Homo sapiens: one gene and its partners. The main gene of each other region encodes a partner of the protein of the gene in region 3 in a complex. Each region holds a gene or a part of one and is shown on either strand. Other genes may lie near its edges.

Region 1 (9,574 bases), on a different chromosome or scaffold from region 3:
GATCTGCCCGTCTCGGCCTCCCAAAGAGCTGGGATTACAGGCATGAGCCACCGCGCCCAGCCTCATCTTGATAATTCTTAATAATTCTGTTTGTGACATTATTTTGATTATATATTTTAATTAATTTATCTGAGATCAGGTGGGGCATGGTGGCTCACACCTGCAATCCCAGCACATTGAAAGGCTTAGGCGGGTGGATCACTTGAGGCCAGGAGTTCAAGACCAGCCTGGTCAACATGGTGAAACCTGCTAAAAATACAAAAATCAGCCAGGCACGGTGGTGCATGCCTGTAATCCCAGCTTCTTTTCTTGGGAGGCTGAGGCAGGAGAATTGCTTGGGCCTGAGAGGCGGAGGTTGCAGTGAGCTGAGATCACGCCATTGCACTACAGCCTGGGCAACAGAGCAAGTCTCTGTCTCAAAAAAAAAAAAAAAAGAATAATAATTAATTTATCTGAGGTAATTTGTGCTGTCAATTTTTTTTTTTAAGAGACAGATCTCGCTCTGTGGCCCAAGCTGGAGTGCACTGGCATGATCACAGCTCACTGCAGCCTTAAACTCCTGGGCTCAAGCGATCCTCCTGTCTTGGCCTTTTGAGTAGCAGGGATTACAGGCACATGCCACTGCACCTAGCTAATTTAATTTTTTGTAGACACAGGGTCTTGCTATATTGCACAGGCTGGTATTGAACTCCTGAGCTCAAGTGATCCTCCTGCCTTGGCTTCCCAAAGTGCTGGGATTACAGGCATGAGCCACCATATCCAGCCAGTGCTCTCAATTTTAATACAAGTATGCATGATTTCATACACTTTGGCTTGTACTCCATCAACAATACTACTTTGATAAGCATTCTAATAAAGTTGGGAAACACCAGATATGAGGAAGAAGAAAGCAGTTTATCAGAAGCCAAAGGAACTGAATGAAAATCATGTCAACTATTACGAAAGTTAAATAAAAACTTAGGTATCCACTGAATGTGGCAATTAAGTAATCATTAGTGACCTTACTAAATAGTTCCAGAACAGTGAATAGACTATTCTTTCAAGAATTCTGGGACTGAAATGTCAGAGATGGGAAGGATAAAGATGAGGAAGGAAGTAGCTCTTATGGAAGAGGGAAGTTTAAAAAGTTATTTTACTGCTTTTTTTTTTTTTATAGGGGAAAACCTTCGATAAGTTTGGATGCTAAGAGGAGTTAGTGGAGAAGAGATTGGAAGTATGAAAACAAAGACAATTACCGGAGAGCAAAAACAAGAAAAGGAAAAAGGAAGGAAGGAGGGAGGAAGTGAGTGAGGGAAGGAGGAAGTGAGGGAGGGAGGGAGAGAAGGAAGGAAAGAGGGAAAGAGAGAGAGAGAAAAGGATGGAAAGCAAAAGTTAAGTTTGGCAAAGGGAAAAGTAAAGCTTCTCTAGAGATTAGAGGGGAGAAGGGCTATGACTAAAACAAGTAAATCTGGAGACACAATAGCTCTACAGTCAAGATCGCCTGTATCTGAATCCTAGTTCTTCCTACCATAACCATATAATGTTAGGCAAGTTTATTTCTCCCACTGTTTCCTTATCTAACCTGGGGAGAACAGAATTATTGAAAGATTATTGAAAAGATCAAGTAATTCCTGATGCACAGTGAGTACTCTAAAGTGGATAGCTGAAATCTGTGTTTGTTTTTTTTTTTTTTTTTGAGAGGGAGTCTTGCTCTGTCGCCCAGACTAGAGTACAGTGGCACGACCTCGGCACACTGCAACCTCCGCCTCTTGGGTTCAAGTGATTCTCCTGCCTCAGCCTCCCAAGTAGCTGGGATTACAGGTGCCCACCACTGTGCCTGGCTAATTTTTGTATTTTTAGTAGAGATGGGGTTTCACCATGTTGGCCAGGATGGTCTCGATCTCCTGACCTCACGATCCACCCGCCTCGGCCTCCCAAAGTGCTGGGATTACAGGCATGAGCCACCGCGCCCAGCCGATCTGTTGTTTTAATACCTTGAAGGAAATCCCTAACAACTCACACGTAAGATTTATATTTTCTCTGCAGAACAGGTACTCTGTTCATCTGCTGAGATTAAAATAATGTTTAAGGTGGAAGGACAGTGGTTTTTAGTCTTTTTAGAGATTAAAAACCCATTTGAGGCTGCTCTGCCTAGGGAGTAGCCATTCTTTATTCCTTTACTTTCCTAATAAACTTGCTTTCACTTAAAAAACAAAATCCATTTGACTCTGATGAAAGATATATGCAGAAAGCCGGGGGTGGTGGCTCATGCCTGTAATCCCAACACTTTGGGAGGCCAAGGCAGGTGGATCACTTGAGGTCAGGAGTTCCAAACCAGCCGAGGTGGGTGGATCACGAGGTCAGGAGATCGAGACCATCCTGGCTAACATAGTGAGACCCCATCTCTACTAAAAATACAAAAAATTAGCTGGGCATCATGGCACGCGCCTGTAGTCTCAGCTACTCTGGAGGCTGAAGCTGGAGAATTGCTTGAACTCAGGAGGCAGAGGTTGCAGTGAGCCGAGATCACACAACTGCACTCCAGCCTGGGCGTCAGAGCTAGACTCCATCTCAAATAAAAACAAAAAACAAAAATTAGCCGGGCGTGGTGGCATGCACCTGTGGTCCCAGCAACTTGGGAGGCTGAGGCAGGAGAATCTCTTGAACCTGGGAGGCAGAGGTTGCGGTGAGCCGAGATTGCACAACTGCACTTCAGCCTGGGCGACAGAGGTAGAGACTCCGTTTCGGGGGAAAAAAAGGCGGGGTGGTGGTGGTGGTGAGAATAGAACACCAAATTTGCAATAGTTGTTTTGTTGTTGTTGTTGTTGTTTTGACACAGAATCTGGCTCTGCTGCCCAGGCTGGAGTGCAGTGGTATGATCACAGCTCACCGTAGCCTTAACCTTTCATCCAGGCTCAAGTGATCCTCCTGTCTCAGCCTCCTGAGTAGCTAGGACTACAGGCACACATCACCATGCCCAGCTAATTTTGTTTCACTTTGTTTCGCTTTTGTAGAGACAGGGTCTCCCATTACAGACCAAGCTGGTCTTGAACTCCTAGGTACAAGCAATCCTCCCACCTTGGCCTCCCAGTGTTGGGATTACAGGCATGAGCCACTGTGTCAAGCCTAAATTTGCAGTTTCAAGCAGTATGAGCAACCTTGCCAATCATATAAAGGGAAGTTGAGGAAGATCTTCAGGTTCCAGGACACAGTTTAAATATCCAATTGTTTGAACAAAAGAAAAAAGGCTGCATCCTCTGGATTTATATACCTAACAGCTATGTAAGGATAACACATGGCTTGCCAGAAAATACACTGGACAGTCCAGAAATCCAGGTTCTCAATTCAGACCTACTCTTACCTGGTAGGTCACACGGCCTTTCCAGACAGCAGCCCTGAGATGTGCTGCAGTGCTAACATTTTATGATTCTATTACCCAAAATCTCACTTGACTCTGCAGACAGAAGAACAAACACTACTTTATTTCCCTATATTATAGTTTAACATGATTTTGAAGGTTTGCCTGGAAATCTAACCATCAAAACTTTATTTCTACAGACAAAACAAGTGTGTTTCTGCATTTCTGGGATGAGGCTGCAAAGGTTCCTGGTAGCATGAGGCATGAGTCAGATACTCCTATCCTGGGAACTGCCTAGGATATTTTAAGAGAAATATACAGAATTGGACCTTGTCAAAACCTCTTCCTTGTCAGTCATCAGTACAGTAATATACACTGGGAGACTTCAGAGAAAACCTAGATTTATTAACAGTTATCCTCGATGGCTGTTTGAATTATATTTAAATAACAATCTAGTAGAGCCAAAGAAAGTGCCTTAATTCAATGATCTTTTGTAAAGGAAATAAAAAATACTTTTTTAGTGGGGAAAAAAAAATTCCCAGAACTTATGTGAAGAAGCTCACCTTTTGGAGTAAGAAGGTATCCAAGATAGAACTATCCAAGATAGAACTAATTTAAATAGCCATATTCAGACAACCATTTATTAAAGTTCCCAATACTCCACAGGACTACCTGTTAATTCATCATTTTGATAGGAATTCAATCAGTCCTTACCTCTAATATTAATCTAATATATGGTACCACACCTCTAGTACAGTATTTTTTTTTCTTTTTTGAGACGGAGTCTTGCTCTGTTGCCCAAGCTGGACTGCAGTGGTGCGATCTCAGCTCACCACAACCTCCACCTCCCGGGTTCAAGCAACTCTCTGCCTTAGCCTCCCCAGTAACTGGGATCACAGGTGCTCACCACCATGCCCGGCTAATTTTTATATTTTTAGTAGAGACAGGGTTTCACCATCTTGACTAGGCTGGTATTGAACTCCTGACCTCGTGATCCACTCACCTCGGCATCCCAAAATGCTGGGATTACAGGCGTGAGTCACCGCGCCCGGCCTACAGTATTTTTTATTTTCATTTTTTTCTTTTTCTAGACAGAGTTTCGCTCTGTCGCCCAGGCTAGAATGCAGCGGCGCGATCTCCACTTACTGCAAGCTCTGCCTCCCGGTTCACGCCATTCTCCTGCCTCAGTCTCCCGAATAGCTGGGACTACAGGCACCTGCCACCACACTGACTAATTTTTTGTATTTTTAGTAGAGATGGGGTTTCACCGTGTTAGCCAGGATGGTCTCGATTTCCTGACCTTGTGATCCACCTGTCTTGGCCTCCCAAAGTGCTGGGATTACAGGCATGAGCCACAGCGCCCAGCCCGGCCTACAGTATTTTTAAGCAATTTTTTTTTTTTTGAGATGGAGTCTCGCTGTTGCAAAGGCTGGAGTGCAGTGGCGAGATCTTGGCTCACTGCAACCTCTGCCTCCCAGGTTCAAGCAACTCTCCTGCCTCAGCCTCCTGAGTAGCTGGGATTACAGGTGAGTGCCACCACACCTGGCTAATTTTTGTATTTTTAGTAGAGACAGGGTTTCACCATATTGGGCAGGCTGGTCTCGAACTCCTGACCTCAGGTGGTCGGCCCGCCTCAGCCTCCCAAAGTACTGGGGGATTACAGGCATAAGCCACCGCACCCAGCCTAAGCAATTTTTTAAAATACAGTACTGTTCAGCGTTACAACTACTTTCTTTAAGATCATGCTTCGGTAACTTCCCAATCTCAGACATTTTCAAAGTGTATTGTCAGTCTACAGAGAAACTCAAAACATGAAACAGATCATAATGGAAGAGTAATACATAAACTTCTACGGGATCAATGTATTTACAAAACTGGTTTTCCCAAGACCTCACACAAAACCATACAAAAGGCGGGGCACAGTGGCTCACGCCTGTAATCCCAGCACTTTGGGAGGTCGAGGCGGGTGGATCACTGGAGGTCAGGAGTTTGAGACCAGCTTGGCCAACATGGTGAAACCCCGTCTCTACTGAAAATACAAAAAGTAGCTGGGCATGGGGGTGCATGCCTGTAGTCCCAGCTACTCGGGAGACTGAGGCAGGAGAATGGCGTGAACCCAGGAGGCAGAGCTTGCAGTGAGCCGAGATTGTGCCACTGCACTCCAGCCTGGGCAACAGAGCGAGACTCTATCTCAAAAAAAAAAAAAAAAAAAAAACTTAGCAAATTGGCTGGGTGCAGTGGCTCATCCCTGTAATCCCAGCACTCTGGGAGGCCAAGGCGGGCAAATCACCTGAGGTCTCAAAAAAAAAAAGCAAGTTAATTAGAATTGTATTTAAAAACTACTTAAGGCCGGGCACGGTGTCTCATGCTTGTATTCCCAGCACTTTGGGAGGCCGAAGCAGGTGGATCACAAGGTCAGGAGTTCGAGACCAGCCTGGCCAATATGGTGAAACCCCGTCTCTACCAAAAATACAAAAATTAGCTGGGCGTGGTGGTGCGAGCTTGTAGTCTCAGCTGCTCGGGAGGCTGACGCAGGAGAATTGCTTGAACCTGGGAGGCGGAGGTTGCAGTGAGCCGAGATCATGCCACTGCACTCCAGCCTGGGCGACAGAGCAAGACTCCATCTCAAAAACAAACAAACAAGAAAACTTAATCTTACATAAAGCATTACTTTCAAACTTTTAAAAATACAGAAAGTATTGTTTAAATGACTTAATCTTTTTACACTCCTGATTACTTAATGAACCCCAATCCCTGGTTACTTTAATCCACATACTAAACTGATGTCGACCAAAAATGCGTATTTTGTTGTTCTTTTTTTTTTTAAGTTGAATCGGTTGCCAAAAAATCTGGATTTGTGGCTTCTCTTTTTTTTTTGAATGGAAGATATTGCAACACTGGGCCCACAGATTTTAGCAATAGCAACATTTGCAGGGAGCTGGTTAGCAGTTGCCCTCATCTGATAGCACATGCATTTTCTAGCTCCCTCAAGTTCTCTCTGCTCACTTTGGTACCTGCCTGGCTTTTATAGACATCAGAGTTTGAAATCTTTTTGTTTGTTTGTTTGTTTGAGACAGGGTCTCACTCTGTTGCATAGGCTGGAGTGTAGCGGCTTGATCACGGTTCACTGCAGCCTCTACCTCCCAGGCTCCCGAGATCCTCCCACCTCAGCCTCCCACCTAGCTGGGACTACAGCCATCCACCACCATACCCAGCTAATTTTTTGTATTTTTTGTAAAGACCATGTTTCGTCATGTTGCTCAGGCTGGTCTCGAACTCCTGAGCTCAAGCGATCTGCCCACCTGGGCCTCCCAAAGTGCTGGGATTACAGGCGTGACCCACTGTGCATGACCCACTGTGCATGACCTGAAATCTTTATTTCATTGAGAACTTTGTCTTGAGACGCCTTAAAAGAAGCTAGCCATAGGCCGGGCACAGTGGCTTACACCTGTAATCCCAACACTTTGGGAGGCCGAGACGGACGGATCTCCTGACGTCAGGAGTTCAAGACCAGCCTGGCCAACAGGGAGAAACCCTGTCTCTATTAAAAATACAAAAATTAGCTGGGCATGGTGGTGAGTGCCTGTAATCCCAGCTACTTGGGAGTCTGAGGCAAGAGAACTGCTTGACCCTGGGAGCCAGAGTTTGTAGTGAGCCAAGATCATGACACTGCACTCCAGCCTGAGCAAGACTGCCTCAAAAAAAAAAAAAAAGAAAGAAAAAAAATCTCTATCACAGAAATAGATCAAGTGATAATCCTGGCATTACTTTGTTTGAAAGCTATGTATGCCAAACGTTATCTGCAACTAGTAGGACACCATTAAAATGTACAATGCACTATTACTGTTAAGAAAAGCTTTTAGTATCCAACTCTGGTCAGTCTTCAACTCCTCAAAGAATCAAGATATTTATTTAGCCTTTTACCCTTCCCAAGAATAGAGAAATTAACCAAATACTTCAACATTACAGCACTCTAAGAGCACCAAAAAGCCTCCTACATCTGTATAGCAAAAGTAAAGAAGAAAAACAGGAAGCAAGTCAGAAAGGTCTCCGATCAGCCAAGGAAACCACACAGTTCACAGAGCACATGAAGCCCTCTTCAGTCAAGAGCCTACTGGATCTTATTTTAGACACAATTTTAATAAGCTCTGTGATCTGGTTTCTTAGCCCACAACAGATGAGATGCAGCCAACTGGAAAAGGGCTGGGGGTGGTGCTGCTAGAGGCAGGCACTCAAAGCATCAAAATCAAGGCTGAAGACCTAAAAAGTCAGCAGAAAACCTTAAAACATAGCAGGGTGGGGCCATGTGGTGTAGATACCAACAATCCCAAAGGATCCCAAGCCCTGCCCAGAACTACACACAATGTTCATAATGACCCTCTTTGCTATGCTCTGCTTATAGTATAGGTCAGGGGACCTTAAGATGTATATCAAAATAAAGTCCATCAAAAGCTTTTTCCAAAAAAGACATGGCATTTCAAAGACTGCCAAATTCACAGACATGAATAGCGTCCCTCTGTCAAAGAAACAAGATATTGAATTCCTGAAGATGTCACATGTCAAATGTAGTTTTTCTTAGAAAAATCTTATCAGAACCCAGATGTAGCAACTCATGACATTTAAGTCAAGAAGGTATTTAAGTAGAATTATTTTTTCAGGGAATGATAATTGGGAAGGTTCAAGATCAATTATAGAAGCCAAGCAATGGGGATTCCACTGCAGACACATTACTAGGACAGAAGATAAGATAGAACTGATCTTATCCATGCCTAGGAAGTCAGCTATTCAACTTAAAATTGTGGTACAAAGAGTTTGGAAAAAAAAAATTAATCTCCATTTTGTTTTCACAATCTTTTTGAGTGGTATACCAAAATAAACTTCATTTTTCTTATCACTAGCTGTCTCAGAGAAGTCAAGCCATACTTTGTGAAGAGCTCTAGGGAATAAACTAGGGGAAAATGGTTAATATTGAATTCTAAAAGTTCAGGCCAGGCCAGATGACGTGGCTCACATCTGCAATCCCAGCACTTTGGGAGGCCAAGGTGGCAGAACACTTGAGGTCAGGAGTTCAAGACCAGCCTGGCCAACATGGTGAAATCCCGTCTCTACTAAAAATACAAAAATTAGCTGGGCATGGCGGCGGAGTGCCTGTAATCCCAGCTACTCCGGAGGCTGAGGCAGGAGAATCGCTTGAACCCAGGAAGCGGAAGTTGCAGTGAGCCAGGATAGCACCACTGCACTCCAGCCTGGGCGACAGAGGGAGACTCCGTCTCCAAAAAAAAAAAAGTTCAGGCCGGGCACGGTAGCTCACGCCTATAATCCCAACACTTTGGGAGGCTGAGGCAGGTGGATCACCGGAGGTCAGGAACTAGAAATCAGCCTGGCCAACATGGTGAAACCCCGTTTCTACTAAAAACACAAAAATTAGACAGGTGTGGTGGTGCGTGCCTGTAATCCCAGCTACTCGGGAGGCTGAAGCAGAAAAATCACTTGAACCCAGGAGGTGGAGGTTGCGGTGAGCTGAGATCGTGCCATTGCATTCCAGCCTGGGCGACAAGACTGAAACTCTATCCCCCAAAAAAGTTCAAATTATTTCTAAACTTGATTTTATTAAAAAAATCTTACAAAGGCATATTTTAAGGAAAATCTATTCTAGAAAATATGTAGCAACTCATAAGAAACTATATTACCAGAGCAAGTATTATTAATTAAAACGTATGTTTTGTGTCAAAGAGATAGTTCCCTCTCTGAAAAAGTCCGTTACACATATAATTCAATGTAGAGATTAAAGTCTACATTTCTTTTTTTTTTGAAAGGGAGTCTCGCCTGTGGCCCAGGCTGGAGTGCAGTGGCGCGATCTCGGCTCACTGCAAGCTCCGCCTCCCCGGTTCACGTCATTCTCCTGCCTCAGCCTCCAGAGTAGCTGGGACTACAGGAACCCGCCACCAAGCCCGGCTAGTTTTTTTTGTATATTTTAGCAGAGACGGGGTTTCACCGTGTTAGCCAGGATGGCCTCGATCTCCTGATCTCGTGATCCACCCACCTCAGCCTCCCAAAGTGCTGGGATTACAGGCGTGAGCCACCGCGCCCGGCAGGTCTACATTTCTTTATCTGTAAATTATTACACATTATACCCACTTGCTCTTTCTCAGGTTATAAAATAAGAGGACAAGCTTCTACAGGTATTTGATAACTTCCCAGTTAGATTCTATAAGGACCTAGCAATTCCTAAAAGCC
Region 2 (9,574 bases), on a different chromosome or scaffold from region 3:
AAGGATCTGCCAACATTTTATCTAACATAGCTACAAATACTATATCTAGCAGTAACTAGTGTGAAAAATTCAGCATTATTATGGTACAAAATAATTCCTAAATTTTAGAAATGTTATCCCTGTATTTTTAAGCTAAACAATTTTGTTTACTGAGTGTCAAATTACTCTTAAATCTTATTTTACATGCATTTTAAAAAATTTATTGGAATTGTATTGCCTGCTGCAATTACAGATTTCAAGTAAAATGACCATGTTATTTGAAATCTAGACTTCAGCTCTACTAAGTTTGTTGGTTTCTCTGGAGTTTCTCTAGCTTTTACATTTTGAGGGCTGTGTACATTTGTCATGAAGTATGAATAAATCATAAAGTTGGGGAGAGAAGTTTTACAGCCTCTTCATATCACAGATGGGCATTAAACCTAAAAATGGGTCACAGGAAAACAAACAGGTCAGTGACTAGAATTCCTACTAGAGTTGTTGTAATCTTTGGTTCCTAAATATCACAAATTTTGTTTTGTTTTTGAGACAGCGTCTTGCTCTGTTGCCCAGGCTGGGGTGCACTGGCGCAATTATGGCTCACTGCAGCCTCGACTTCCTGGGTTCAGGTGATCCTCTGACCTAAGCCTCCCGAGTGGCGGGGACTACAGGCGTGCACCACCATGCCCAGCTCATTTTTGTATTTTTTTGTAGAGCCTGGGTTTTGTCATGTTGCTTAGGCTGGTCTCGAAATCCTGGGCTCAAGCAATCTCTACCTCGGCGTCCCAAGCTAGGATTACAGGTGTGAGCCACCAAGCCTGGCCTAATAACACATTTTTAAATGGTCTGATGTACAAGTAGATGTGAAATGTGCAATGTAATATATTTATCACTTAAAATGTGTGTTGGCTGGCTACAGTGGCTCAAGCCTATATAATCCTAGCAGTTTTGGAGGCTGTGGTGAGAGGATCACTTGAGGCCAGGAGTTTGAGACCAGCCTGGGCAACACAGTGAGACCTTGTTGCTACAGACCAAAAAAAAAAAAATTTAATTTAAAAACTGCCTATAAAGATTGTCTTTAAAGTATTAGTATTATGGGTCTGGTTTAATCAGCCAAAAGTAGGGGAAAAAAGCAGTTTAATAAAATTTTATTTTCAATGGTTCAATGCCTTTAGTGCTGAATTTTAAAATCTGAAGTAAAAATAAAAAACTTTGTGGTGAGAAACTGTAGGCAATTAAACATTCTGAGCAACTTTCCAAAAATCAGTGTTGTACCATATTGAATTTATTTTATGTTAAAGAAAGAAATGACACATCGTTATTTGTTTTTCATCCAGCCCCCAGTCTATGTTGGTCTGTGTCAGGGATTGGCAAACTACAACCCATGGGCCAAATCCCATGCCTATGGTGGTAAATAAAGTTTCACTGGAATATAGCTCTGCCCAATGCATTTATGTACTGTCTGTGGCTCCCTCTACTACAACTAGAGGGTTGAGTAGTGCATCAGAGACCATACAGTGCCCTGCTATGCTGAGAAATGTTTTTAAATAAAATGAATGGTAAAATCGTTATTAAAAAGACAAAAAATATTCTCAGGTATTTTGGTTTAGAAGTGGCATTTGCAATATTTAAATATATTTTCTTAGGATTTATTTTTAACTAGTTAAAAACAACAAAAACTGTATCTTTTGAATCAGGCATTTTAAATGTTAAAATATTTAGAGGTGGATGACTTATGCTTATAAATCCTGCTTTTCAGCAGTGAAGGTGTTAATGGTTCCTTAAATGAGACCAAGAGTATGGTAGGGTCTGTAACTGTATGGTGCAGCAGGAGTAGGAGTTTCCACTACGCTTTGTTACACTAATAACCCTGAATTATCAATCAGCAAGTCAGCGTGTTTTAGAAACTACACCACCCACGTTTCCTCTGCCTCCTATAGCTGCACACTAAAATAGCCTGAAGGTGAAGCCAGACAGACACCCTTGTCATTGAATGGGCTGACCGTGACCAATACAGTTGAGTTTACTTCTTTTGCTAAAATCATGGAGAAAAAAGAGCAGCAACAACAACAACAACAACAACAAAAATGAACAATACAAAGCTTGAGGGCAATCACTGTAACAATTTTGAGAGAAATAAAGTTGAAAGTGGCTGAACACAATGATTAGCTCAGACTTCACTTTCACAAGAAGGCTATTTTTGGAGTTACATATTTTAATTGTTGATAAAGAAGGCTGTAACAGAAAGAATGCCCAGTCAATATGTAAAATGATAGCAATTTACTATAACAACCATAAAATCATCAGGCTACTGACAGCTGGAGAAATTCCACATGCTAAGCAACTCAACTCCAAAGAAATATTAGAGGTTTGAGATGAAAAATACACTTGAACCTGTAATTGAATTAGACAAGCCTCACTGCACGTAGGGCTACAGCGGTCACCAGGACACAAAGCAAATGTCGGGTTACCAGAAGTGCAGTTATCAGCCACAGTGATTTATTGAGTGCTTTAATAATACAAGTGTACATCAACTGATCCACAGTCAAAAGTGGCAGGTCCCTAAGAAATTTACAAGCACTTTAAGTAAATCAAAATACATATTATTTTGTTCAATCCAACAGTCTTCTGCGGGAGGGACAGAAGGCTAGTGATAAACAGAGTCTCAGTAATGCACAGTGATTCTGATTGAAGCTTTTGTACAAAAACTTGTTCCCAGTAGCATGCACCCACCAATAAAGACTTCAGTACAAAAAATTAACCCTAAGCACTACATTTAAGTAGAAACGAGATATAATTCTGAATGTGTTTTCCCAAAGATCACATAAAAGAAAAAAAAATCAAAATCAAATAAACAACAACAAAAAAAACAAAACCACACAGTAATACAAAGCTTTGTAAGAAAGCTCTTACTATTACAGCTCCAACATTGTTTGCACTGAAAACAAAAGTTCCCATCTATGATGAGGTGGGAAAAAATCCCAAATCTTTCAAGTTAACAGAAATCAACAAGGGAATAAAATGAGAGATAAAAGAGAGCGTGGGAGAGAGGAAGGGGGGCAGGAAGAACTGGGATGGGAAGATGGACAACATACCATCACAAAATGGTTCCAAATTTAATAAAAATAGGAAAATAAGAACCGAGGTCTGGAGGGGTGGGCAGGGCTACCGATGCACTTGGTGAATGTGCTTGCACAGGTCCCGCGGGGCGGCAGGCAGCAGGCCCCTATGTGGCGTACCGCTTGGTCCACTGTCTGGCCATCCGGTCATGCTCTGCTCTGTTGGTCATGTACTGTGTGGCGATGCTGCCCACCAGAGGGTCAGCTGCAAGGAAAGCAGAGTTGGGAGTCAGTAAATACCAGCACTGTGGGGGAAGAAGTGTTCAGAAAGCTGGCAAGGAGTGGGAGGGTAGGAGATGAGAAGCTGCTGTTCTAACCTGGACCACCATTGCTGCGGCTGAGCCAGTCACCTGCTGCTGACAGACTACATTTCACACCAGCTGCCCCAAGAGTCACCTATCTGTATTTTACTGATAGCTCTTGTCATATTTCTTGACAAGTCTTATTCTCTTTCCCTGTACCCACCACATACTTCTCACCTTGCTCCCCTCGTATTGGTTTTTTTTTTTTTCTTTTGAGACAGGGTGTTGCTCTGTCACTCAGGCTAGAGTGCAGTGGCATGATCACAGCTCAGTGTAGCCTTGACCTCCTGGGATCAAGCAATCCTCCTCCTGCCTCAGCCTCCTGAGTAGCTGGGACCACAGGTGTGTGCAACAACACCTGGCTAATTTTCAAATTTTTTTTTGTAATTTTGGGGGTCTCACTATGTTGTCCAGGATAGTCTCAAACTCCTGGGCTCAAGTTATCCTCCTGCCTCAGCCTCCCAAAGTGCTGGGATTACAGGTGTGAGATGCCTGTCTTCAAGTAGATATTTCACGGAGAAAATGCAGGTGGGCTGTGGGCAGGGGACTCATGGGCTCTTGATGAGCTCTCCTGGGAAGACGTTTGGCGGTCTGGACAACTCCTTACCCTAGGCTAGCACCACAGGCAGGTGGCATTCTCCTGCCAGATTACCTTATCTGAGGAGACGCCAGAGTCTGAGCTGGACAGTCAAAAGAGGGGAGAGATGGTCCACTTCTTCCTCAAAATTTGGTAACATCCAACCTACATAGCTCATTATTACAAAAATACTAATAGATGTTAATAATAGCTAACACTCACCATGACTAACCATGTCCTAAAACTCTAATATGTTAATGACATGGATTTCTAAGGAGCTGACACAGGAGGAAATTGGAGCATAAGGAGGCTGAGTCTCTTGCCCAACGTGGAGAAAGGGGTGGAGCAGGGCTTGGAGCCAGAGTTCACCCTCTTAACTAACAGGGTGCTGTTAGTTAACAGGGTGCTTAACTTAACAGGGTGCTGGGAGATAGCTCTCTATCCAGAATATTGATTGGGTCAACGTTTAATTAAAAAAATTGGGGCACGGTGGCTCATGCTTGTAATATTAGCACTTTAAGAGGCTGAGGCAGCAGGATCGCTTGAGTCCAGGAGTTTGAGTCTGTAGTGAGCTATGATCGTGCCACCACATACCAGCCTGGGTGACAGAGTGAGACCCTCTTTAAAAAAAAAGACAAAAAAAAAAAAACAAAAAAACAAAAAAACAAAAAGCAAAGCAATTAAAAAAAAAGTAACTTAGGTTCCTAAAGATCCCAGATTCTACTCTTTTCCCTCCAATTCTCTAATTTCACTCTTTCCCCGATTTATATTTCCCCTATTTTTGGTATTGGGAATTTGGGTATATTAGAGCAGTCAGGTAAGGAGGATCCACTAGGGAAAATGAGAAAAATCATCAAAAGCTAATGTTTGGTAGGAAAAAAATAGTAGAGAATATGGAACTACGTCTGTGGCCCAACACCACCGGCAACTTGGGAAGATCCTGAGACTAACCTTGTAAGGCACTCATGGTCATATGTTCTCAATATGAAAGGTATAATAGAAACACCACTTTTTAACCTATCTGCTGAAGCTCATGATAACAAAGCCTTTGAAAGCCTGCTCAACAAGACTTGCTTAAGTTTTCCTGGAATTGTGTAAATCTCGTAATAATTATTCCAGGGAGAAGCCAGTTTCCTACATTCACTTATATCACAATTAGTAGACTACTTAGTATGTGGGTTTGTTCGAAACGTTTGCCTCTCTGCCTACTCTTTGTGATTCTTCTTCATTTTCTCAGATGTTGAAATGAAAACTCTACCATTTCACCCAGTCCAGTCAAGATTCAACAAGATTTAAACCAGCACTACCAAATACAGACACAAAATATCTGGCAATTGGCCAGGATACTTTTTTAAAAATGTAGCCTTTCACTTGAGCTTAAGTAATGACATTAGAGTAATAGGGGCCAAAGTGAAATCTGAGTCACATTTCTCTACCTTCAAAAAAAGTAATCTTGTTCTGATTCCTGGCATTCTAGAATGCAAAGAGTAGGGTGAAACGTGGGCATCCTTAATAGTTTAAGTCTGTATCACTCAAGATAGGTGTTTAATTAAATAGAACTTATATTAGTGAAACACATTGAAGATCCATTCTAACTTACTGATGAAGGTAAGGCTCAATGTCAGAAGAATAACACTGACTTATATGTTCCACCTCAAACTGTACCCACATCCAGAGTGTACACACTGGGAATAAGACAGGTCTGCCACTTCAGCTCAAAGGGGGTGGAGGGAAACAAATGAAGAATAAAGGGAACAAGAAGCTGTGGGGTGGGAAAATGTGTCATATCAACTGTTAATAGTATTTCAGTACAGGCAAAAGGAGAAACAATTAAAAACAAGTTAGAGTGCTGGTAACAATTAGCGTGCGTTGTGCAAACTTTTTTTTGCATGCTTAACATTTAATTGCTTTCAAGGTTCTTTTACGTTTTCAAATTTGATTAAAAAATTTTTTTTCCACCTGTAAAATTATACACACTAACTATAAAACAGTAATTAATAATAATTTAGAAAACCACCTCAGACAATATGCAAGACAGGAAGTTGAAAGTAAAGACCATCTCGTGTATAAATCCACGCAAAGAAAACTGCTGTTAACATCGTGGTATGTTTTCTTCCTACACTTCTAATCACATGATGTAAAAAAAAAAAAAGGGATTAATTTATAGTCTGCTTTTGTAATCTTTTAAAAAATAACTATGATTTTTATACCGATATGGTAAATAACTTTTTACATAGATAATTGTAGATCTACTTCATCATTTCTAATACCTGAATTAAGAACGAATTTCCTGTTTTTAGATGTTTGGGTACTCTCCAACTTTTGTTTTAAAAACAACGATGTGAGGACCATTACCATGCATGCATCTTTGGAAGTTATACAAATCTTAAATTTGTTTAAAGTATAAAATGAAGGGATAAAGTAAAAATACACAATGAAGGAATTAAAAAAATCATGTTATTGGCTGGGTCAGATGGCTCACGTCTGTAATCCCAGCACTTTGGGAGTCTGAGGGTGGAGGACAGCTTGAGGCCAGGAGTTCAAGACCAGCCTGGGCAACACACTGAGACCCCCAACTCCACAAAAAAATAACAAAAATTAGCCAGGTGTGGTGGTGTGCCCCTGTAGTCCAGCCTACTTGAGAGGCTGAGGTGGGAGGATCGCTTGAGCCCAGAAGTTTAAGACTACAGTGAGCTGTGATCATGCCACCACACTCCAGCCTGGGTGACAGAGCAAGACTCTGTTTCTAAAAAAATAAAAAAGACCACTAACAATTAGTATTTGATGTTCACTTAAAATTCTATTCAACATAGTAACTATCTTCTCATATCAATTTACATGTCCCTATGATTTTCTGAATATTACCCCCAGTAGCAGTGCTGATGTTTAAGCTAATATTTCATGAAAGGAGAAAAAGGCTACAAACTACTTTTTCATATGCTGCACATAAAGATTCAGCTCAGTGGAATAATCCTGAAGAGCTAGTTGTGAAAATGGATCTCTGCTGAAAATGGTAAATTGTATATGCTTAATTAAGGGAGGACTTTTCAATGTGAAAGTCTGAAAATACTGTTTCTTAGCAGAATGTTAAACTTAATAAATGGTAAATAAAAGTCATGAATTTAGCAACACTAAAAGGTAATAAAAAAAAAAAACATGTTATCAACCAAATAATTTTTTTTTTTTGTTGAGACAGTTTCACTCTGCCATCCAAGCCAGGCTCCAAACATAAATTACTGTACCCTATTTCTCTAACAAGAAGAAAATATTTCCCATCATTTTGGGTTTCTAGATTGTTACTATTTTCCCAAATCTTTATTAATATTTGAGATTATCATCTGTCAGTTTTCCTCATTTTTACTAAAGAAAAGCCACAAAATTTATCAGTAGATAAGTAAATTGAAATCAAAGCCTCCCACATTTTCTGTTTTTGTTCAAAAATTATTTACACTTTTGAAAAGAGGAGCATGTTCAGACTTATGCAGAACAGAGTTAGATGACTTCAAGTACTTAATTCTCCCAAACACCAGTACGGCATGTATTAGAGGTTTCCTGAGGCAGAAGTATAGGATCTACAGTGTGGTTAACAGAATATCATAGAGATGGAAGTTAGGTATACAAAGCTTTCCTCTAAATCACATTTCCTCATCTGTTTAATAAAAATCATGTCTTTTTTTTTTTTTTTTTTTGAGACAGGGTCTCACTCTGTTGCCCTGGCTGGAGTGCAGTGGTGGGATCATAGCTCACTGCAGCCTTGACCCCTGGGCTCAAGCAATCCTCCTGCCTCAACTTCTTGAGTAGCTGGGACTACAGGCACACAGTAGCATGTCCAGTTTATTGATTTATTTTTTTTGGTAGAGACGGCAGATGTTGCCCAGGCTGGTCTTAAATTCCTAGCTTCAAGTGTCCTCCCACCTTGGCCTCCAAAAGTGGTGCGATTACAGGATGAGCCGCTGCTCCAAGCCAGCATCATGGCATTTTTGTTAACAAAATACCAGTCATAAAATAATAACCTGAATGAAAGCGTAAGACTGCAAGATCACTGATGAAGGGGAACATACCTTCTTCTTACTCACCTCTACTTCCTCTATCTCACCTCTGTCTCCCTACACAATTTAGAAGCAAAGAGTACATACCTGTCAACTAACAATCACTATTATTTGCAAGCGAGTGAAAGACTGTCATACCAACTGGGCACAGCGGCTCATGCCTGTAATCTCAGCACTTTGGGAGGTTGAGGCAGGAGGATGGCCTGAGCCGAGGAGTTTGAGACCAAGCCTGGGCAACACAGTGAGAACCCATCTCTACAAAAAAAAAAAAAAAAAAAAAAAAACAAAAAACAGCTGGGTGTGGTGGCATGTACCTGTGGTCCCAGCTTCTTGGGAGGCTGAGGTAGGAGGTTCACTGGAGCCCAGGGGGTCGTGATTACAGTGAGCCATGATTGCGCCACTGTACTCCAGCTGGGCGAAAGAGCGAGACCGTCTTTCCAGAAAAAAAAAAAAAGATTGTCATATTGCGTAATCTACCTCTTCGCATTTTTTGAGATCTGTGGTATGTGCACCTTTGATTCTAGAGGAAAAAGGCTCAGACAACTCCCACCTTGCCTCTTTAATGGATGGAGCTACACTGGGTACCCTGGAAGCCAAAGGGTTTATAGTCCCACCTAGAAAAGGGAGGACAGAGACAGGGAACAAGACTAAAAGGGATCGATGGATGTAGATGCAAAAATCCTCAACAAAATACTAGCAAACCAAATCCAGCAGCATACAAAAAAGCAAATCCACCATGATCAAGTAGACTTTAACTTTGGGATGCAAGGTTGGTTCAACACATGCAAATCAACAAATGTGATTCATTGCATAAACAACGCAAACAAAAAACCACGTGATCATCTCAACAGATGCAGAAAAGGCTTTTAAAATTCAACATATCATCATGTTAAAAACCCTCAACAAACTAGGCACTGAAGGAACATACTTCAAAATAATAAGAGCCCTCTATGAAAAACCCACAGCCAACATCATACTAAATGAGCAAACATTAGAAGCATACCCCTTTTGAAATCCAGAACAAATCAAGGATGCCCTCTCTCACTACTCCTAGTCAATATTACACTGGAATTCTTAGCCAGAGCAATCAGGCAAGAGAAAGAAATAAAATGCATTCGAATAGGAAGGGAGGAAGTCAAACTATCCCTGTTTGTAGACGATATGATTCTATACCTAGAAAACCCCACTGTCTCTGCCCCAAAGCTCCCTGACCTGATAAACAACTTCAGCAAAGTGTCAGGATACAAAATCAATGCACAAAAATCAGTAGCATTTCTATGCATCAACACCATACAGGCTGAGAGCCAAAACAAGAACACAATCCCATTCACAATAGCCACAAAGAAAATAAAATACAGCTAACCAGGGAGGTGAAAGATCTTTACAATGAGAATTACAAATCACTGCTCAAAGAAATCAGAGGTGACACAAACAAATGGAAAAACATTCCAAGCTCATGGAAAGGAAGAAGTTTGTTAAAATGGCCATACTGCCCAAAGCAATTTACAGGTGCAACGCTATTTCTATCAAACTACCAATGACATTCTTCAC
Region 3 (10,545 bases):
TTCCAGCCTGGGCGACAGAGTGAGACTCCGTCTCAAAAAAATAAAAAAATAAAAAATAAATAAATAAAAATACCTCAATTGATAAAAAGAGAAATGAATTGCTGGATTATCTGGGAAACTTTCATGTTTGAGGCTGAGAAAAAAAAATGAAAGAAAAATAGATACAGAAGTGTTATTACTTTCTTATATTGGACATCAGAACTTCAATTTATTATGTAAACTAGATACTTTCTGAAATCAATGGGCCATAGGTTTTAGAAATCTTTGTGTTAAAGAAAAACCTGTCCAGTTCTAGGCAGTGGCACAAAATTCTAGGCCCTCATTGGTTTGGGTTTGACAGAAGACTTTTTATTCTCTAATTTGTCATCCACTCTATGGTAAATGAAGAGAACAGGAGGCTGGCTGGTGATTTGCTCTATTTCTAATCCACCATGGCCATGGAAAAATTAATGTACATATAATATAATTCCATAAATGCAGATGCCTCATTTGACCTACTACTATATTAAGGCTCACTACATGTTCACTAACCTCAAAGATATCCAACCAGCCTAGTATTTCCAGATCATTTAATTATTAAGCTATTTCTTAAAATCATTTCTGATTTTAAATTAAGTTTATCAAATGATATACAAGGAGCTATCCATTTAACATCTATCAATGAGCCCATCCAATTACAGGGCCTGTGAAATAGAACAATAAATATGTGTAAACATGCATAATAGCTGAAACAGGAACGTAACAGACGAAAAGGGGGGATTGCTGGATAACCTTTAAGTATTAACAAAAGTTTCTGATGCAACATAACCTACAGACTTTTTACTACAACCTTTCATTTTCATTGCATTTCCTATCTAATTAGACAGCAATCAAACCCAGAAGTATAACGTCAGACAGGCCTGGGATAAAATGAGGGCTCCACCACTTAAAGCTATTTAACTGAGGACAAATTATACTTAACCTCTTTGGGTTTTTGGTTTCCTCTATAAAAGTTAACATTCTCATGAGGCTCTGTTGTGAGAATTATAAAATAATGCATATAAAGCACATGGCCTAGCACCACAGGCCTTCAGCAGAAGTTGGTTATGAATTTAGGCTAAGTATCCATCCCAGTTTGTCGGGGACAATCAAGGTTTGCACCTGCTGTCCAGGAATTATTAATGTTCCTTTTGTTCTTAAAAGTGTCTTGGTTAGGCAATAAATTATGTGGTTACCCTAATGATGATGATAATAATAATGAAAGGAGTCAATATCAATTAAAAGTATCATGTATCAATTATGAATTTTTGAATCTTAAAGGAAAAAAATCAACCACCACACACAAAGTAACGTAAAATTATACTCTCGTAAGCTATTCTGATATTTCATTTAGTTATCCAATGAACATTTAAATGTTATTTTACTTATACTCATGCCATTCCAACAATGATATAAGACAACAAATTTTTTGTTGTTGTTGTTCTATACAGGTATTGGTAAACTTCAGACATTATTTTAAAGAGTCAAATTCACAGATAAAGCACTGGTGAGTTCCAGGTATCCAGAAACATTACCCTTTTAATTCCCAGTGAAAAGTACCCATTCTTATCATGAAGAATACCCAACACCATCTAACATCTATCAATGAGCCCATCCAATTACAGGGCCTGCAAAATAGAACAATAAATATTTGTAAACATGCATTCTACACATAAATCATCAGGAGACGCAACAAAAAATAAATTACCTGACTGTTATGACATAGTATTGAAATACAATAAACTGGATTTTAGTTTTCTTCACTCTGCTCTAGAAAAAAAAAGAATCCATTATTCTTCCTCTTTAAAAAGATACACATTTTCTTTGAATTAGACACAACCTAAAAAAAAAAATACAGACACACCATAACCCAACCTAATTCAATATTAGTATTAGGGCATTTGGGGAGAGCAAGAAGGTCAGAGGGGACCAGGAGTTAGATAAAAGATGTCTTCTAAGACTGAGAGACAATTTACGTTTTATTATAAGCTTGCTTAAAATAAGCCTTTCCTTATCAGACCAGTAATTATTTTCAGATTCTGATAGTCACTTTCAAGGACTTATCTGGCACATTACACTAGCCTAAGGTAGGAACTAAAGTATTAAAATTCATCAGAACATCATGGACTAAAAAAATCTTTGTAACATTTTTCAGTAAGTGGAGTGTGTCCTAAAATCAAGTTTTAAAAAGTGGATTGGTCTTTCTAGCTACCTAAGCTATATTTCTACAGTTTAGAAAAGTCATGGGGGGGGAGGGGTTATAATTGTGCCAGTCCTCCAGGGAAGATACAATGTACTTAATGGGGTGATAAGTAGTTACTCTGTCTATAATCACGAAGAATGAAAGAAATGATTAGTAGCAGTAGGTTTATTATTTCTTCCCCCTTTCAATCAGTCCAAAACACTGCGGTTAATTCTGATTCAGGAAATGCGGGCTCCTTACTTCTGGCAAAAAATCATTGTGGGGTCTTGCAAATGGAAGATGACAATCTGATACAACTGCTTCCTCTTGCCCCAAAATGAAAAAAAAAATGACCTCAATAACAAGACTGCTAGGCCTCAGATTCCCAGACTAACCTGTGGAATAAGTATGGTGAAACTGTCTAGGGAAGGAACGTGGCTGTCTCCTCCATCTTGAAATTAATCAGCATAAGGGAAAAAGGGACCGAGTATTCAGGAAGCAGAAGCCCAACCGGTTAATACTAGTTACTAAGCTATGGCATGCGTGGCAGGTACCGTCTGCAGAAGCAGAGACCCCCCTAGGCTTTTTTTTTTTTTTTTAATGGGGGAGGGATTGAGTTGTTGGTGGATTAAACACAAATTAACTTGAAAATTTGGCCCAATTCCATCCCTTATCCAGGAGAACACAACAAACACCTAACGGCTTTTCCCTCTCTTTTGCGGGGGGATCCTTCCAGTGATACCTGGCAAAGGATATGCCAGGGTTATTCGAGCAAGGGAGTAAACCACATTTGCCTCAGATCCTCAGGGAAGATGTCATCGCGGCCCCAGGGGGCGCCTAATTGGTAATACCCTGCAGAAGGGCTCAAAATGAGGTTTTGGAAATCTAAAGGCCCAAGAGTTGCCAGCATCTCACTTGGGGCAGCCTGATTTTTTACTTCCCTTTTCCCAAACCCAAGCCCGCCATGGAAAACGCGGGGAGGTCAGGGAAGCCTCCAGAGAACAGAGAAGAAAAAGCCTGAGACGTTCTAAGATTCTGACGCCTGAGGCCAAAACTCAAAAACTGCCTCCCCCGATTTCCTAAGGCTCCGGAGGGCCTGGGCTGCAGCTCGCGCGGCCACCGAGAGGAAGTACTACCCACCTCCTTCCCCTTCAAAGAGCCTGTCGACTATACCACTCAACTAAAATGGCAGCGGCGACTACGCCACGGAGCCCCCCGCAGCAACGGGCCTGGGGTCCGGAGGCGGCGCTGAGCCTCTGCCACGACGCGTCACTCGGGCCATTTTGAGAGAACGCGGCAGCCGCGGCTCCGCTGTCTTCCTCTCGCTCTACATCATTTCTCACAGGATTCCCAAGTCTTCACTTACTAGGTTTTAGGGTCAGGATCCGACTCGGTTGGTTCGGCCGCCGCCGCCGAGGCTGCTCCGCACCTCCCTGGCCGCCGCTCTCAAGCCCGCCTCCAATGAGTAGCTGGTTGAGACCCGCCTCTAGCCCAGCGCCTGCTCGGAGACGTTGCTCAGGCAGCCATTATCTTCCCCATTGTTACCAAGCAGCGACAGGAAACGACTGCCCACAACAGGAAGTGATGATGCCGCGTCCCGGCACCGCAGCCCCACTCCCAGCCTATTAGCCAATCCCAGTCGATTCCTCGAAAAGGCTCCGCGGGAGGAGGAGGGGGACGGCAGACGACGCGGCAAGGCGGGCGGCGGTTTGGAAAAGGAAAGCTGTTATGACGCCCACCATGTGACAGGCCCCACCCTCCTCCGCCATTTTGAATTGTGGCGAGAAATTTGCGTTCTGAGAATTGTGGGAACCTTCGCTTTCCCATTTTGAAAACTGAAGGACGTCACGGTCTGACTGCTTGAAGACATTTTCAGAGAGAGAGAAATGTGATATTAGTCTACCCTGACATCACATCAGTTCACACAATCCGTGCAGACCAGTTCAAAAAGTAGCCTGCGTTTTATTCAACATGTATTTACACAGTGCCAACTGCATGTCAAGCACCATTGTAGCTGCTTAGGAAATTAAAATAGACCAAAATTAAGAAAGAAAACAGGCCACGTTCGGTGGCTCACGCCTGTAATCCCAGCACTTTGGGAAGCCGAAGCGGGCGGATCACCTGAGGTCAGGAGTTCGAGACCAGCCTGGCCAACATGGTGAAACCCAGTCTCTACTAAAAATACGAAAATTAGCCGGGCGTGGTGGCGGGCGCCTGTAATCTCTGCTAATCGGGAGGCTGAGGCAGGAGAATAGCTGAACCCAGGAGGCGAAGATTGCAGTGAGCCGGGATCTCGCCACTGCACTCTAGCCTGGGTGACAGAGCAAGGCTGTGTCTCAAAAAAAAAAAAAAAAAAAAAAAGAAAACAGATCAAAATCCCAGTTCTCTTGAGTCTTTATAGGGGCCAGGGACAATAATTTAGAAAAAATCAAACATAAATACATATCATGTTAGTGATAAATGCCAAGGAGAAAAATCAAGGAAGGGGGACAGAAGAGTTCCTTGTAGGGACAAACGGATTCGTGATGTTTAAAAGACTGATAACTTTGAGGCATTAACTCTAAAGTATTCGAAAAAGGGCGGTGATTGTAAAAGGGTGGGAAAATCTGATAACGTTGGGATTTGTAAAAGGGCAGTTAAAGAAGGCCTTTCTTAGGTAGTAATGCCTGAAAGAATTGAGGGAACTCGCCACACAGCATGCCACTCCCATTGTCACAGTTAAAGGAAAACCTTACCCAAGTTTTTAGATTCTTTTCCTTTTCCCAATTTTTCTGTTTTCCAATAGCATGCCAGCTATGCTGGCTTTGTTACGGTTTTTCCAACAAAGCTAACTTCTTCCTACTTCAACTACTTTACCTTTGCTGGAATATTTTACTTTCATATCTTTGCTTTCATCATCCAAGCCTCGCAATTATTAACTTCCTAGAGAAGCCTTCCCTGACCACCCTACCTAAAATAACTTCTTCCTGAAGGCGGAAAAAGGTCTGAGGAAAAAAAAAAAAAGAAAAAAGTAATAACGACTTCTCCCATCTCCTTACCTGCTTACTTTTCTTGTAAAACACTTAATCTGAAAGTAAGTTATTTATTTGTTTGTTTACTTCACCCTTTCTGAGCAGTAAACCTCTCTGTTTTGTTCACTGTTGTGTCCCCAGCGACCACATAGTAAGCCCTCAAAATACTTTGGGAGAATTACCCCCTCACCATGATGGATGTTATATCAGCCTGGAATATAAGTATTTCACTCCAAGCAGTTAAAACAATATCCCTCATACTTACCTGCCCAACTCCCTAGAAGACTCATTGATATTGTCATTTTTGGCAGAGGGATACATGATTTAGGCGCTGTGTCTCTACTCAGGTTTTTGTCTTATTTTACATAATCATGTACTAGAACGATTACCTAGAACGTGTAAAAGGAATTCTTCAGTAGCCTGCAATTGCCATTAAGCCTGATATTCTGATTATGGCAATAACATTAGCCACTCCTTAACGTATTCTTGAGGCTTATGTGGCTTAATCTAAAATATAAAATCATAAAAGAAGTGGAAGAAAATACAGGTTACTATTTCTGTCCTTTCTTCCTTCCTTCCTTCCTTCCTTCCTTCCTTCCTTCCTTCCTTCCTTCCTTCTTTCTTTCTTTTTTTTTTTTGATGGAGTCTTGCTTTGTTGCCCAGGCTGGAGTCCAGTGGCATGATCTCAGCTCACTGCAACCTCCGTCTCCTGGGTTCAAGCGATTCTCCTACCTCAGCCTCCCCAGTAGCTGGGATTGCAGGCATGCACCACCACGCCTGGCTAATTTTTGTATTTTTAGTAGAGATGAGGTTTCACCATGTTGGGCAGCCTGGTCTCCAACTCCTGACTTCATGATCCGCCTGCCTGGGCCTCCCAAAGTGTTGGGATTACAGGCGTGAGCCACTGTCCAGGCCTAGGTTAATATTTCTATAGCCTTGGGGATGCAGAAGCACTTTTGAAATACAACACAAAATCCATAATGGGAAAGACTAATAAGTACAACTTCATAAATAAAAGTAAACCTTCTAAATGTCAAAATACAAGGTTGGTAAAGTTAAAAGACAAATGATAAATTGAAAAAAATCATTTCATAATGACATATTAGAGCCAAGGGGTAATATCTTTACTTAATAAAAAGACGAAACACTAGCAAAAATGTTACATATGTGATAAACACATATGGCTAATATCAGCCTATAAAGAGTTGTTAAACATTGATTTTTAAAAAGATAAATACCGGCCGGGCGCAGGGGCTCACACCTGTAATCCCAGCACTTTGGGAGGCCAAGGCAGGCGGATCACAAGGTCAGGAGATCAAGACCAGCCTGGCCAATATGGTGAAACCCCGTCTCTACTAAAAAAAATACAAAAATTAGCTGGGCGTGGTGGCGTACTCACTCCTGTAGTCCCAGCTACTTGGGAGGCTGAGGAAAAGGAATTGATTGAACCCGGGAGGCAGAGGTTGGAGTGAGCCGAGATCATGCCACTGCACTCCAGCCTGGGTAACAGCAAGACTGCATCTCAAAAAAAAAAAAAAAAAAAAAAGAGATAAATACCTCCATTTCAAAATGTGCAAGGAACATGAATGGATAATTCATAAAAGGATAAAACACGTGGCTGATAAGCATATGACAATATATTCTTTTTTTCTTGTTAGTAAATAACCTTGTACTTGAAAATATATTCAGCCTCACTAGTAATTAATCAAAAATAAAAACAATGAGGTACAACTATTATGTATCCATAATAATTAAAAAACAATAGCTGGGTTCGGTGGCTCACGCCTGTAATCCCAGCACTTTGGGAGGCTGAGGCGGGTGGATTGCCTGAGGTCAGGAGTTTGAGACCAGCCTGGCCAACATGGTGAAACCCCGTATCTACTAAAACTTCAGAAAAAAAATTAGTTGGGCGTGGTGGTGGGCACCTATAATCCCAGCTACTCGGGAGGCTGAGGCAGGAGAATCGCTTGAACCGGGAGGCAGAGGTTGCAGTGAGCCGAGATTGCGACATTGCACTCCAGCCTGGGCAACAAGAGTGAAACTCTGTCTCAAAAAAACAAAACAGAAAAATTTTATGAACTAAAAAATTTTTTAAAAAGTTCCTTTTTTTGCCTGTTAGAATGTCAAGGATAAAAAATCGATAATATTAATTGTTGATGAAGATCCTATGAAATGGGCACATTTGTATTGCCAGTGGGACAAATTGATATCAGTTTTCTTTTTTTTTTTTTTTTTGAGACAGAGTCTCACTCTGTCACCAGGCTGGAGTGCAGTGGCGCAATGTCGGCTCACCGCAACCTCCACCTCCTGGGTGCAAGCAATTCTCCTGCCTCAGCCCCCCGAGTAGCTGGGATTACAGGCGTGCGCCACCACACCCAGCTAATTTTTGTAGTTTTATTAGAGACGGATTTTCGCCATGTTGGATAGGATGGTCTCGATCTCTTGACCTTGTGATCCGCCCACCTCAGCCTCCCAAAGTGCTGGGATTACAGGCATGAGCCACCACTCCCAGTTTTCTTAAGGCAATTTGGTAATGTGTTTCAAAAGACTCATATTCATAGTATTTGACAAACATGTCCAGGTACAGAAATTTATTTTAAGGAAAGAAGTGGACAAATTTGCAAATATGTATGTAATGAATGTGCAAAGATGCTAATTACAGTGTGGTTTATAACATCGAAATATTGACAAATCAGAAAAAATAACCATCCAACAACAATTAGTTATAGTATAACCACATAATAGACTACCATGTAGCATTAAAAATAAGTACCTAGAGCTGGAAATACGTTCAGGTTACTTTTTTTTTTTTTTTTTTTGAGACGGAGTCTCACTCTGTCACCCAGGCTGGAGTGCAGTGGCACAATCTCGGCTAACTGCAACCTCCACCTCCTGGTTTCAAGCGATTCTCCTGCCTCAGCCTCCTGAGTAGCTGGGACTACAGGCTCGTGCCACCACGCCCAGCTAATTTTTGTATTTTGAGTAGAGACGAGGTTTCACCATGTTGGCCTGGCTGGTCTCCAGCTTTTGACCTCGAGTGATCCACCCACCTCTGCCTCCCAAAGTGCTGGGATTCCAGGCATGAGCCACCGTGTCCGGCCTCAGGTTACGTTTTTAATGAAAAAAGCGATTTACAATACAGCTTGTGTGACTCCATTTTTATTTAAAAGATATGTATAAATATGCCTAGAAAAAAGCCTAGATGAGCATACATTTTTAGTCACTTTTATGTTCTTTTTTTTTTTTTTTTTGAGATGGAGTCTCACTCTGTCACCCAGGCTGGAGGGCAGTGGCATGATCTCGACTCACTGCAACCTCTGCCTCCCGGGTTCAAGCGATTCTCATGCCTCAGCCTCCTGAGTAGCTGGGATTACAGGCGCCCGCCACCATGCCCGACTAATTTTTGTATTTTTAGTAGAGATGGGGGTTTCACCATGTTGGCCAGGCTGGTCTTGAACTCCTGACCTCAGGTGATCCACCTGCTTCGGCCTCCCAAAGTGCTGGGATTACAGGCATAAGCCACCGCTCAGGGACCATTTTTATGTTCTTTACCCCTTTCAGTATTGTCTTCAACATTTTACAATGTGCATTATTACTTGGTATTGGAAAGGGGTAGAACCTTTTTTATTTTGAAAGAAAAATCTGCCTGAATTTGAAGACTACATATCTCCCTTACCACTTATTCTTTCCATGCTTCAAATATACTTTCTTTCTTTTCCTTTTCCACATATTCATTCGTGTTCTTTTATAAGCATGGAGCTACTTTACTTACAATATCAAGGAAAGTACTTCTCAAAACAATTTATCTCATGGTAGCATTCAGTGCCACTCTAGAACCTACCAAAGCAACTACTAAACACTTGTTTGGTTTCTATTTAGCCTAATTGCATTTCCCTCCCATGTTGTTTGGTTGGTTTGTTTGTTTGTTTTGAGACGGAGTCTCGCTCTGTCGCCCAGGCTGAGGTGCAATGGTGCAATCTGAGCTAACTGCAACTGTGCTTCCCAGGTTCAAGCGATTCTCCTGCCTCAGCCTCCTGAGTAGCTGGGATTACAGGCACCCACCACTCCTGGATAATTTTTGTGTTTTTAGTAGATGCGGGGTTTCGCCATGTTGGCCAGGCTGGTCTCCAATTCCTGACCTCAGGTGATCGGCCCGCCTCGACCTCCCAAATTGTTGGGATTACAGGTGTGAGCCACAGCACCTAACCCCATATTCTTTTTATGTATGTGTGACCTTCAAATGATTTTTACCCATTCTTGGTCAAGTGTCCCTTAACAGGAAAAAAAGAAAAGATCTTCCCAATCTTCCTTCTGTTCATTTTAACAAAATGTATTGATAATCTGCTACCTTCTGGTCGCTGGGGACATACCACCATCAGTACACCATACACTAGAAGACCCTTCCCTATGGCAAGAAAGACATTGAAAAGATACTTTTAAATGTAATGAACATTACAAAGGAGACATAAGGGTACAATGGCAAGTATGTAAAAGGAACATTTAACCAGAAGAAGCTGCCATTTTTTTAGCTGAGATCTGAAGACGGAATGATGGTTCCGGATGAGAGGAAGATGAGAGATGAACCCTGGGAGAGGGAATAACTTGTACAAATTCCATGGGATGAGAGAAGGGAAACTGGGGAACTGAAAGAATAGCTTAGTTTCTCTAGCAAATATTCTATTTTATTTTCTCTATAGCACTCATCAGAAAGGAATTTGTCTTGTTATTTGTTCATTTTGTTTGTTGATTGTATTTATATGTTTATAGTCTATCAGTGTTTCTGCTGGCCCGCCCCCACTTCTGGCCAGCGTAAGCTCCGTGAGAACTGAGGCTTTGCCCCACCCCCTCTCAGCAGTATTTTCCCAGCCTAAAATACCTAAAAGGCACTCAATCAATATTTCTTCAACTAATCAACGAATTAGCTTGTAGTTCATATTAGACATTTTGGATCTTATCCTAAGAGCAATGAGAAGTTGTTAAAGGGTTTTTAAAAGAAAACCCATATGATCTGATTCGATTGTTTTTTAAAATAAAAAAAGATCTTCTTGGCTGCTATGTGTTTGAAACTGTTTTACTTTATAGTCAATACGGTCACTGTTTTAAGATTACAATACTTCTTTAAGAAACTCGACTTTTTTTTTTTTTTTTTTTTTTTTTTTTTAGATGGAGTCTTGCTCTATCACCCAGGCTGGAGTGCATTGGCACCATCTCGGCTCACCACAACCTCCAGGTTCAAGCCAGGTTCAAGCCATTCTCCTGCTTTAGCTTCCTGAGTAGCTGGCATTACAGGTGCGTGCCACCACGCCCGGCTAATTTTTGTATTTTGAGTAGAGA

What was found.
Region 1: the proteins of RLIM (region 3) and UBE2D2 are in contact, whole or in part, in a crystal structure (PDB 6W7Z), measured with the Homo sapiens proteins. Residues at the interface, in NP_057204.2 of Homo sapiens: Ser571, Val572, Ile574, His595, Cys596, Arg599, Trp600, Glu603, Pro608, Ile609, Arg611; in NP_003330.1 of Homo sapiens: Met1, Arg5, Lys8, Glu9, Asp59, Pro61, Phe62, Lys63, Ile88, Gln92, Trp93, Ser94, Pro95, Ala96, Leu97, Thr98.
Region 2: the proteins of RLIM (region 3) and UBE2E2 are in contact, whole or in part, in a crystal structure (PDB 6W9A), measured with the Homo sapiens proteins. Residues at the interface, in NP_057204.2 of Homo sapiens: Ser571, Val572, Cys573, Ile574, Thr575, Cys596, Arg599, Trp600, Pro608, Ile609, Arg611; in NP_001357154.1 of Homo sapiens: Lys52, Thr55, Lys58, Arg59, Lys62, Pro112, Asp113, Pro115, Phe116, Ile142, Asn146, Trp147, Ser148, Pro149, Ala150, Leu151, Thr152.

The regions. Positions count from the first base shown.
Region 1 is NC_000005.10:139,563,508-139,573,081, reverse strand, and holds part of UBE2D2 (ubiquitin-conjugating enzyme E2 D2), read right to left. Parts: intron 1-9,574.
Region 2 is NC_000003.12:23,583,460-23,593,033, reverse strand, and holds the end of UBE2E2 (ubiquitin-conjugating enzyme E2 E2), read right to left. Parts: intron 3,301-9,574; coding exon 3,203-3,300; 3' UTR 1,240-3,202; downstream 1-1,239.
Region 3 is NC_000023.11:74,610,856-74,621,400, forward strand, and holds the start of RLIM (E3 ubiquitin-protein ligase RLIM), read right to left. Parts: upstream 3,770-10,545; 5' UTR 3,567-3,769; intron 1,789-3,566; exon of another isoform or gene 1,727-1,788; intron 1-1,726. UniProt on the Homo sapiens protein: E3 ubiquitin-protein ligase.